Regions from separate parts of the Homo sapiens genome. Here all the other regions are linked to region 1. The links come from fine-mapping of genetic effects on gene expression. A gene starts in region 1. Each other region holds a variant in brackets. All regions are shown on one strand. Distances are between the middles of the regions.

Region 1 (2,629 bases):
TAGGATATATGCTAAGTTACACATCCTGTCTACATTTTCTCTTACATGGTTGCTTAGTATTTATTTTCACCCACCTGACCTCATGTGTACAGCTGTAAAGGGAGGTAATTAAATATAATACTAGCTGTTCGTACTTTTGAACGCTTTCCAAGTTTCTCTTATTTATTTATTTAGAGGCGGAGTTTTGTTCTTATTGCCCAGGCTGGAGTACAATAGCATGATCTCGGCTCACTGCAACCTCCGTCTCCTGGATTCAAGCGATTCTCCTGTCTCAACCTCCCGAGTAGCTAGAATTAGACATCCGTCACCACGCCCGGCTAATTTTGTATTTTTAGTAGAGACGGAGTTTCTCCATGTTGGCCAGGCTGGTCTCGAACTCCTGACCTCAGGTGATCCGCCCGCCTCGGCCTCCCAAAGTGCTGGGATTACAGGCCTGAGCCACCGCTCCCAGCCGTTTCTCTTATTTAATTCTTGGTAAGTTCTTTCAGTTTTACTTCCTGTTCCCTTTTTAGTCTTAAGTCTTAAAACTGTAATTGCACAGCCTTTAATGTGCTCTCATACATTTATTGTTCCTTGCTGGACCGACTGCCCTTTCAATAATGCCCTTTCATGAACTTTTCCTATTTCCTATTCTTTTTAAAGGTGCAGAAGGAAAACTAAGCTCATCACAGACTTACAAAAAGCCGGGTTTAAAAGAAATCTTCGAAATTATCATCTCGTTTCACGTTAATTAACTGAGCCCGCGGTCACAAAGCTTCGCAACGGCAAAGCCAAAAGCAAGATTCATGCCTTTCAACTTTCTCACTACCCAAGTAGCACCGCAAGCCGAATCCGCAGGGCAGTGCCAACATTGTTTGCTACTCTTGCGCAGAACAAAAATGCTAATCACTGCAACTGCTTTACATGAAAGTGCACCTAGAAAGACTTCAAAACCCAGAGGTACATTAACTTTCCAGGCAAGTTCCTCCCAGCCTGTGTGCCACGAGCGATTCCGAATGTGGTGTGCCCTCTCCCACAGTGCGAAGCTCGCGGGCGCTCAGGCTGCCGTTTGAATGAACGCACGAGTGGGAGGGACGCACAAGCAGGGTTGCAAGCCCGGGGCTCGTTAGCAGACGCGGAGATGCCAGGACGGGCTTCGCACTCGGATCTGAATGACCCTGGAACAGGAATCACCCCACGCCAACAGCGATGGGGGCCCCGCGGCACCGGCCCGACCCAAGGAGGCAGCAGCCCGAGAAGCAGAGCCCTGTCCCCAGTCCCCGGAACCTCGCGCCCCGCCGAGCCCGGCCCGGCCTGCGAAGTGGAGAGCACAGGCAGCCCCGAGCACGCCCGGTTGCAAAGGAGGCTCCTCGGAAATCGCAGCCCAACCTTACCCCAGGCCCGGGTTCCAGGAGCCGCAGAGAAAGCGGGGCCGGCAGGAGGAGGCACGGGCCAGGACTTACCTGGCGGCAGCGGCCCCACACCTCCTCCAACCCGGACTCAGTTGTAACAAGAACCTGAGGCCGCTGGAGAAAAGGAAAAAATGCCGTCGCGGGCGGGGCAGACCCACGAGCCTGCACGCAGCCCCGCGCCGCCCCGCCCCGTCCGCGCAAACACGCGACCTCCTCAGCTCCCATTGGTTTCTGCCAGCACTAGCCACACCCCTGACAGCCCCAGATGGGGACACGGAGGGGCGGGGCCCGTCCCAAGTGCCCCTCAGGATCTTCCCCTGCCGCTGCCTGAGGGAGCTGCCCGGGACTCGGTGACACCTGATGTGGCCTCCGATATCGACTGGGAGGTGGAAGAGAAATTTGGGGAACGCATCGAGAACCGTGGAAAAGCAACCTTCGCAGGGGGCAACCTTCTCACGGTGCCCCCGTGAACCTTCACAGTTGGATGGAAGTAAACTTGCCCTTATTTTTTTATACCCCAGCTTTTAGCTTGAAAATATACAGATTAGCCGGGCATAGCGGCGGGCGCTATAATCCCAGCTACTTGGGTGGCTGAGGCAGAAGAATCGCTTGAACCTGGGAGGCGGAGATTGCAGTGAGCAGAGAGCGTACCACTGCACTCCAGCCTGGGCAACAAAGCGAGACTTCGTCTCAAAAAAAAAAAAAAAAAAAAAAAAAAAAAAAAAAAAAAAAAAAAGCCAGACCTGGTGGCGGGTGCCTGTAATCCCAGCCACTCGGGAGGCTGAAACAGGAGAATCGCTTGAACCCGGGAGGCGGAGGTTGCAGTGAGCCAAGATCGCGCCACTGCACTCCAGCCTGGGCGACAAAGTGATACTCCCTCTTAAAAAAAAAAAAAAAAAAAAAGAAAGAAAATGTCCAAACAGAACAAAAAATTAAAAGAACCGTACTATGAGTAGAAATCTTTACATATATATCTAATATACATATATGTAAATATTTATTTATATATTAATATATAACATTTTTAACGGTATGGCAGTGTTTGTGTTCAAGCATACCCAGGTATATTTTTGTTTTGTTTTGTTTTTAGACAGAGCCTCACTCTTGTTGCCCAGGCTGGAGTGCAATGGCACCATCTCAGCTCACTGCAACCTCCGCCTCCCAGGTTCAAGTGATTCTGCTGCCTCAGCCTCCCGAGTAGCTGGGATTACAGGTGCCCATCACCACGTCCGGCTAAT
Region 2 (2,760 bases), 21 kb before region 1:
GCATTTCACATATTATCTTTGATGTTGAAGGGCACTTCAGTGGTAAAGACTAGTGTTTGGATGTTAGTTTATGCCATTAAACGTTTGATGAAGAGCATCCAATGCCAACACACAGCAATCTCAACTAACCCAGTCTTCATCTGTTGCTCACATCCCAGAATCTGTGATGAGCCAAGCAGTGAGAAGCAGAGTGAAACACAGGAAGCTTTGCTGTTTCAGAAGTTACCATTTTCAGAAAGATGTCTCATGCAGCCTTGGCTTGTCACAAATCCAATTTCTTCAACTGCTCGTATGTCACAAAGAACTGTGGTTATGGGTTAAGGATGACACAGAAAATGCCATCTTCACAACTCCAGTGCATAACAACAGACTTACAAATGGCACACTTAATAACAAATAGGTACAGGCAGACCCACGCTATGGACACGATTAAATAAAAGGGGTTCCACCCTTAACCACATCAAACTATCTTCCAAGGTCAGCTTGGAGCAGAAAGATCACAGCTGAGATATGTAAATCCCCTGGTATCAGCCTCTTCTGAGATGGCATCTACGCTGATAAGCTTTTGTGGCTTTGCTGTGGTGGAAAAACTTTCCAGCACTGTAAGCTTTTGAGAGAGAGAGAGAGAGAGAGAGTTAGCAAGCCCTGGGAAGCTCTCCTCAAAGGCTTCCACTATGCATCCTTCCTTGGGAGGCAGGAGCTGATGAAGAGCAACAAGAGGACAGCAAAAGCCAGCATTCCTGCTTCATCACTCTGCCCTTCAGTGTCTAATTAACTGCCTCACGGGCGCGGTGGCTCACGCCTGTAATCCCAGCACTTTGGGAGGCCAAGGGGCAGGTCACTTGAGGTCAGGAGTTTGAGACCAGCCTGGCTGACATGGTGAAACCCCATCTCTACTAAAAACACAAAAATTAGCCAGGCGTGGTTTTATGTGCCTGTAATCCCAACTACTCAGGAGGCCAAGGCAAGAGAATTGCTAGAACCCAGGAGGCGGAGGTGGCAGTGACCCGAGATCACGCCACTGTACTCCAGCCTGGGCGACAGAGTAAAGACTCAGTCTCAAAAACAAAAAAAAAGTTAACTGCCTTTCCTTTCCTGCCTCCCACTGTGGCACATAGGAAGCGTGCTGGCCTGCCAAACAATTCCGGAGCTAATTCCTGTTTATCTTCAGGCACTTTCTAAGATAAGCATTCTAAGACACTGTTGCCAACCACATCCTTCCCAAGGTGGCTAGGGCTATAAAGCCAATCCTCCTCTCTCTCTCTCTGAAATC[G/A]TAAATACCCTCAGCTTCTAGAACAGAGTCTAACTAAACCTTTTTAGTAGTATCACTACTTTTGAATAATACCACCATCAAAGCAAGATTCAGTGTCTAGCACGGAGACTTTACACTTCCTAAAAAAGAAACTAAGTAGTGACTTCTTAGCATCAGAGGAACTCAAAATAATCAGAACCTACTTCTAAATTATAATTAATAACATGAGAGTTTATACAAATAGTATTCTTTAGCTGTATCTTTTTTCAGATCTATTGCAACAGAAAAGGATACAATGATATTCCAAGGACCAAGTCTCAACCAATTTGGCCAAAAGCCTTTATAGAGAGCAAAAAACCCTTCATTCTTCCATGTCTGTTAAAAGAAGAAAAAAAAGTTAACTTCCAACTTTCTAATTATGCCAAATGCATTAATAATTAGTGGCCAGGCCAGGCGCGGTGGCTCACGCCTTTAATCCCAGCACTTTGGGAGGCCGAGGCGGGTGGATCACCAGGTCAGGAGATCAAGACCATCCTGGCTAATGCAGTGAAACCCTGTCTCTACTAAAAATACAAAAAAAAAATTAGCCGGGCATGGTGGCAGGCGCCTGTAGTCCCAGCTACTCGGGAGGCTGAGGCAGGAGAATGGCATGAACCCGGGAGGCGGAGCTTGCAGTGAGCCAAGATCACGCCACTGCACTCCAGCCTGGGCGACAAAGCGAGACTCCATCTCAAAAAATAATAATAATAATTAGTGGCCAGACTGATTTATTTTTCTTAAAAATAAAATCCTGTTTGGAAGGACTGCCTAAGAAATCTTTGCTCTTTAGAGGCTTGTGTGGGTGGAAGACTAAGGCTCCATGCCCAACAACCCCACACGAAGGATTGAATGAACTCCACACAAAGGAGATAAACACTGTTGAGTGAGGAAAAAATTAGATTTAATTCCAATTACGGTCTGTTGCTTCCGTGCCATGTGGGCTCCTGAACAGGTCACAAATAAAGAAGCAATAGTGGTAGAGATATCATTCAGAGTACCACTATTTCCCAAGATGTCAGGTGGATGAATACGATAAGTGTCTTTGCTTCATTAAGGCAACACCTGAAGAATAAAATGTGCTAGTGTCATGTTGGAAAACAGGAACCACAAAAGTGGCCCCTGTAGCCATAAAAAAGAAATCACGTTCTTTGCAGCAACATGGATGGAGCTGGAGGCCATTATCCTGAGCAAACTAACGCAGAAACAGAAGATCAAAAACCACATGTTCTCATTTTTAAGTGGGAGCTAAACAATGGGTACACACGGACATAAAGATAGAAGTAACAGACACTGGGGACTCCTAAAGGGGAGAGGCTAGAGTTGAAAAATTATCTGTCTGGTGTAATGCTCACTATTTGGGTAATGGGTACATTAGAAGCCCAATCTCCACCACTACGCATGTGCCTATGTAACACACCTGCACATGTACCCCCTGAATCTAAAATACATTAAAACTTGAAAATAAATAA
Region 3 (2,500 bases), 59 kb after region 1:
AAAAAAAAAAGCTTACTAATGGTGGGACATCAGTGTCATGTTTATATTTTGAGATGAGCATTTAATATAGAGCCTAAAATGTTAGTACTATATAGTATTTATTAACTTAATGTGATTTAATGGAAAATATTTCTTTCTCTTTCAAAACAACTGAGATGGAAACCCAATCTTGAGTTAAGTTCAGAGAATTTTCAAGTCACTTAAATATCTTTGTGACTCTCTTTTTTCAAGCTTCCAATTGAAGACTTGTGCAGTTTAACATCCCAGTCACTGCCCATTGAACTGACTTCAGTAGTGCCTGAATCTACAGAAGACATTCTCTTGAAGGGCTTCACTTCCTTAGGAATGGAAGAAGAAAGAATTGAAACCGCACAGCAGGTGAATTGCAGTATCTTTTCTAAGGATGTTTGATTATTTCAGATGTCTGAAGACAAGGCTAATAAAGTCCTAATTAAAAGTTCTGAACATTTGTCACCATAATTAACATTAAGTCTTTCTAGAACATTCTTGATTTTGCATTAGTTGTGGCTGTTTACGTGTTTTAAATGAATCTATTGCCCAATTATAGTTATGATATAGGTAAAAAAACATGAGATTCCATGTTTGGACGTTGATAGATTATTGAGGTTTTAATGTCTTATGCACTTTTGACTTCCCCCAATGTCTGTCTTCTGTTAACCTGTTCCCTCAGTGTGTGCATGGGTACCCCTCCATCTCACTTGTTGCTAGGTAGTCCTTTTTTAAAAAACCCAAATATTCTTTTTATATTAACATTTGTAGTTATTTTTCAGTAATTTAGCATGTGTAATTTTTTCTTGGTTTTTGTTCATTCCTAATTAGAAACCTAAACTTACAGTAGTTTCTTCTGCCACTTTCCTTGTCTCCTCTTTCTTTTCCTATTAAGAGTCAAAGTTGAGGCATTGACCAAATAAAACATAAAGTACATGTGTTGGAACTGGATTACATATATAGTAAGTTGAGAGAGGCAGTTCTACAAACCGATGAAGAATTACAGTTCCTGAGCTAGGCTGACCTGCACCTGAAAGTCAGCTCCATCATTTAGCATCTTTGTGAGCTTAAGCAAATTACTTAGCTTCTTAGATCTTTAGTTTCCTAATATATAAAACAGGGATAATTATATATTATTTCACAGGATTTTTGTGAGCGTTAAATACGATAATGCATGTAAATTCGTTGTGTAGCAAGTACACAGTAAATGCTCAGCAAATGATAGCCAAGGTACATGGCAAG[C/T]CTGTATACCCTTGACATTGAATCTTACTTGAGATTCAGTGTTCTCAGGTTCACTTGAAGGTAGTCTTGCACCACATCTGTGAACTTGTTTGGCCTGCTTAAAAAAAGTCCTCTGGATGAAACTCGTACCTGTTCTCTCTTTAAAATTAAAAAAACTAATATGCTGACTTATAATTTATGTACAATAAAATGTATTCATTTTAAGTGTCAGCTCAATGAGTTTTGAAAAGTGTATATACCTATGTATGTAACTAACAACTATAATTGAGATATAAAACATTTCTATCATCACCCCAAAAGTTTCTTCATACTTGTTTAAGGTCAACTCCCCGCATCCCCCTTTTAAATAATAGATATTTTTCAGGCCAGAATTCAGATCCAGGGCTAGCTGATACCAGAGTCCATATTCTCTTTTTTTTTTTTTTGAGATGGAGTCTCACTCTGTTGCCCAGGCTGCAGTGCAGTGGGCAATCTTGGCTCACTGCAAGCTCCACCTCCTGGGTTCACGCCATTCTCCTGTCTCAGCCTCCTGAGTAGCTGGGACTACAGGCGGCCACCACCACGCCAGGCTAATTTTTTGTATTTTTAGTGGAGGTGGAGTTTCACCTTGTTAGCCAGGATGATCTCAATCTCCTGACCTCGTGATCTGCCTGCCTTGCCCTCCCAAAGTGCTAGGATTACAGGCGTGAGCTACCATTCCCGGCCCCACAGTCCATATTCTTAAACCACTCTGTAATATTATTTTTGAGTTATAGCCTCACAGTTCTTATTAGATAACGTTAATATTGATATTTGCCCAAAGCACTATGTTACCTACTCAAATTTTGTAAACGATTATAGCAAGTAGGCATTAGCCTGTTAGGAAGAAATATTCATTTTTTACCTATTGTATGTTTAATACTCTTCCTTAATTTGACTGTGAAAATGGTCAGTTTTTTGTTTGTTTTTTTCAATCCTTAAGACATCTGAAATGGCCTTTTTTTTTTTTTGAGACGGAGTCTCGCTCTGTCACCCAAACTGGAGTGCAGTGGCGTGATCTCGGCTCACTGCAAGCTCTGCCTCCCGGGTTCATGCCATTCTCCCGCCTCAGCCTCTTGAGTAACTGGGACTACAGGCGCCCGGCTTATTTTTTGTATTTTTAGTAGAGACGGGGTTTCACCGTGTTAGCCAGGATGGTCTCTATCTCCTGACCTTGTGATCCGCTCGCCTCGGCCTCCGAAAGTGCTGAGATTACAGGCGTGAGCCACCG
Region 4 (2,760 bases), 35 kb before region 1:
GCGATTGTTGTCCTAAGAGCCAGGGGGAGAAGAGGGGCTGGCTCTCAGTCCCCGCCTCGTGGGGGGTGCCTCCCCCGCTGCGATGGGGGTCCTAAGAGCCGGGGGCGGAACAGGGGCTGCCTCTGAGTCCCTGCCTCGTGGGGGGTGCCTCCCCCTCCTGCGATGGTGGTCCTAAGAGCCAGAGGGGGAAGAGGGGCTGGCTCTCAGTCCCTGCCTCGTGGGGGGTGCCTCCCTCCCCTGCGATGGGGGTCCTGAGAGCCGGGGGGGATGAGGGGCTGGCTCTCAGTCCCCGCCTCGCGGGGGGTGCCTCCCCCCCTGTGATGGGGGCCCTGAGAGCCAGGGGGGAAGAGGGGCTGGCTCTCAGTCCCTGCCTCGTTGGGGGTGTCTCCCCCCCTGCGATGGGTGTCCTAAGAGCCAGAGGGGGAAGTGGGGCTGGCTCTCAGTCCCCGCCTCGTGGGGGGTGCCTCCCCCTCTGCGATGGGGGTCCTAAGAGCCGGGGGCGGAAGAGGGGCTGCCTCTGAGTCCCTGCCTCGTGGGGGGTGCCTCCCCCTCCTGCGATGGTGGTCCTAAGAGCCAGAGGGGGAAGAGGGGCTGGCTCTGAGTCTCCGCCTCGCGGGGGTTGCCTCCCCCCCTGCGATGGGGGTCCTAAGAGCCTGGGGCGGAAGAGAGGCTGGCTCTCAGTCCGTGCCTCGCAGAGGGTGTCATCGCCCCTGCGATGGGGGTCCCAAGAGCCAGCGGGGGAAAAGGGGCTGACTCTCAGCCACCACAAAATGGGGAGCCTTTATGTTCAGGTTTTGCCCAAGAGTCAGCTTATTTGCTTCTTGTACTAGCAGGGCAGTTGCTGCCAAGGCCCTCAAACAGGGGAGCCATCCTTCAGAAACCCTGTCTAGTTGTTCAGAGACGTAGGCCACCGGCCTCAGCCAGGGCCCCACAGTTTGGGTTAAAAGTCCAGCTGCCATCTTTTCTCTCTCTAACGCATACAATGGAAAAGCCTTTGCCAGATCGGGTAGCCCCAGGGCTGGGGCTGCCAGAAGTTTTTCCTTTAACTCCTGAAAGACTTTCTGTTCTTGGGATCCCCATTCCAAAGGTTCCCGGTCCCCGCCCCCTTTGTGACCTCATACAAAGGCTTGGCTAACACTGCAAAGTTTGGGATGCACAGTCTATAAAACCCCACAGCCCCTGAGAATTCCCTCACCTGCCTTCTGCCCTTAGGCTCCGGTAGATTGCAAATGACCTGCTTTCTTTCTGTTCCCGGGCTGCGTTCGGACCCCTGT[C/G]GGATAGTAACTCCCAAGTAAGGTACCTGCCGTCGGCAGATTGGAGCTTTCTTCTTGGAGACCTAATACCCACAGTCCTCCAGGTGGGTCCTAAGGATCTTAGGATCCGCGATGGGGGTCCTAAGGCAGGGGGGGAAGAGGGGTTGGCTGTCATCCAACCCAAAATGGGCGGCCTTTATGTTCAGGTTTTGCCCAAGAGTCAGCTTATTTGCTTCTTGTACTATCAGGGCAGTTGATGCCACGGCCCTCAAACATGAGGGGCCATCCTTTAGAAACCCTCTCTAGTTGTTTAGAGACGTAGGCCACCGGCCTCATCCAGGGCCCCAGAGTTTCGGTTAAAAGTCCAGCTGCCATCTTTTCTCTATCTGACGCATTCAATGGAAAAGGCTTTGTCAGATCGGGTAGCCCCAGGGCTGGGGCTGCCAGAAGTTTTTCCTTTAACTCATGAAAGACTTGCTGTTGTTGGGATCCCCATTCCAAAGGTTCCCGGTCCCCGTCCCCTTTGTGACCTCATACAAAGGCTTGGCTAATACTGCAAAGTTTGGGATGCACAGTCTACAAAACCCCACAGCCCCTAAGAATTCCCTCACCTGCCTTCTGCCCTTAGGCTCCGGTAGATTGCAAATGACCTGCTTTCTTTCTGTTCCCGGGCTGCGTTCGGACCCCTGTCGGAGAGTAAATCCGAAGTAAGGTAGCTGCCGTCGGCAGATTTGAGCTTTTTTCTTGGACACCTAATACCCACAGTCCTCCAGATGGGTCCTAAGGTTCTTAGGATCCGCAATGGGGGTCCTAAGCCAGGGGGTGATGAGGGGCTGGCTCTCAGTCCCTGCCTCGTGGGGGGTGCCTCCCCCTCCTGCGATGGTGGTCCTAAGAGCCAGAGGGGGAAGAGGGGTGCACACCCAGTTCATGATCAGGTCCCAAAATCAAATGTCCAGTTTTTAGCTAGGACCCAGTAAGAAGAGCTATTTTTCAAAGAGAGAAAAGTTATTTGCAAAAGATAACATGGATTTGCTGCAAACCGCCAGGGGTCTGCACTGTGATTCTCCTTTCAGGGCTGGTTGAAGGCTCCATACAGTATCTCTATCTGCCTTGGACACTTCAGGCATATGTGCCATATATGACAGAACATCTTGCACAACAGTCTGAATTTGCTGCAACCCTTCTCTTGCTCTGGGCCCCACTCAAAACCGGCAGACTTACAAATTCCTTCGTAAATGGGCCAGGGCAGCATGGTAAAATGTGCTGTATATTACCTCCTAAAACACCCGTCAAGTATTTTTTTTTAACTCTTTCCTAGCATAGGAGTACATGATGCAGCAATTTGTTTTCATTTGAAGGAGATAACCAACATGCCTCAGGCCACTGAACTCCTAGAAATGTCACATGCTCAACATATTATCCATATAATGGACTAGTTCTGCATTTTATGGGATGTTGTGATTATCAAGACCCCTGAAGCCTTGCTTATGACAGAACAGGAGAGTTG

Alleles and levels. Alleles are on the strand shown, and positions count from the first base shown. SD is a standard deviation of normalised expression in the study named. Not every link is listed here.
For the expression in monocytes after LPS of the gene that starts at base 1,516 in region 1, allele C in region 3 goes with a lower level than allele T (large effect, 1.1 SD a copy in Fairfax 2014).
With allele G in place of C in region 4, the expression in tibial nerve of the gene that starts at base 1,516 in region 1 is higher (small effect, 0.30 SD a copy in GTEx).

What was found. PIP is the estimated chance that this variant, and not a neighbour inherited with it, causes the effect. A credible set is the group of variants that fine-mapping cannot tell apart.
Region 2: its variant is the best candidate, but not a certain one, in a credible set for the expression of SLC25A30 in whole blood (INTERVAL, PIP 0.52).
Region 3: its variant is the best candidate, but not a certain one, in a credible set for the expression of SLC25A30 in monocytes after LPS (Fairfax 2014, PIP 0.79).
Region 4: its variant is the best candidate, but not a certain one, in a credible set for the expression of SLC25A30 in tibial nerve (GTEx, PIP 0.56).

What each region holds. Positions count from the first base shown.
Region 1 is chr13:45,416,858-45,419,486 of GRCh38, forward strand. It overlaps SLC25A30 (solute carrier family 25 member 30), which reads right to left and starts at 1,516. Exons shown (of 10, transcript NM_001010875.4): 1 at 1,443-1,516. It overlaps SLC25A30-AS1 (SLC25A30 antisense RNA 1), which reads left to right and starts at 1,305. Exons shown (of 2, transcript NR_047031.1): 1 at 1,305-1,881. RefSeq lists enhancers at 871-920, 1,731-1,920 and silencers at 1,151-1,480, 1,521-1,620.
Region 2 is chr13:45,395,712-45,398,471 of GRCh38, forward strand. It overlaps SLC25A30 (solute carrier family 25 member 30), which reads right to left. Exons shown (of 10, transcript NM_001010875.4): 9 at 1,547-1,627; 10 at 1-304. The coding sequence ends at 263. Among named protein-coding and RNA genes, the nearest start is that of SLC25A30-AS1, 21 kb to the right of the region's middle. The variant G/A (reference allele first, on the strand shown) is at 1,274.
Region 3 is chr13:45,475,970-45,478,469 of GRCh38, forward strand. COG3 (component of oligomeric golgi complex 3) reads left to right here. Exons shown (of 23, transcript NM_031431.4): 2 at 232-378. Among named protein-coding and RNA genes, the nearest start is that of COG3, 12 kb to the left of the region's middle. The variant C/T (reference allele first, on the strand shown) is at 1,252.
Region 4 is chr13:45,381,879-45,384,638 of GRCh38, forward strand. TPT1-AS1 (TPT1 antisense RNA 1) reads left to right here. Exons shown (of 11, transcript NR_024458.1): 9 at 1,213-1,357. Among named protein-coding and RNA genes, the nearest start is that of SLC25A30-AS1, 35 kb to the right of the region's middle. The variant C/G (reference allele first, on the strand shown) is at 1,275.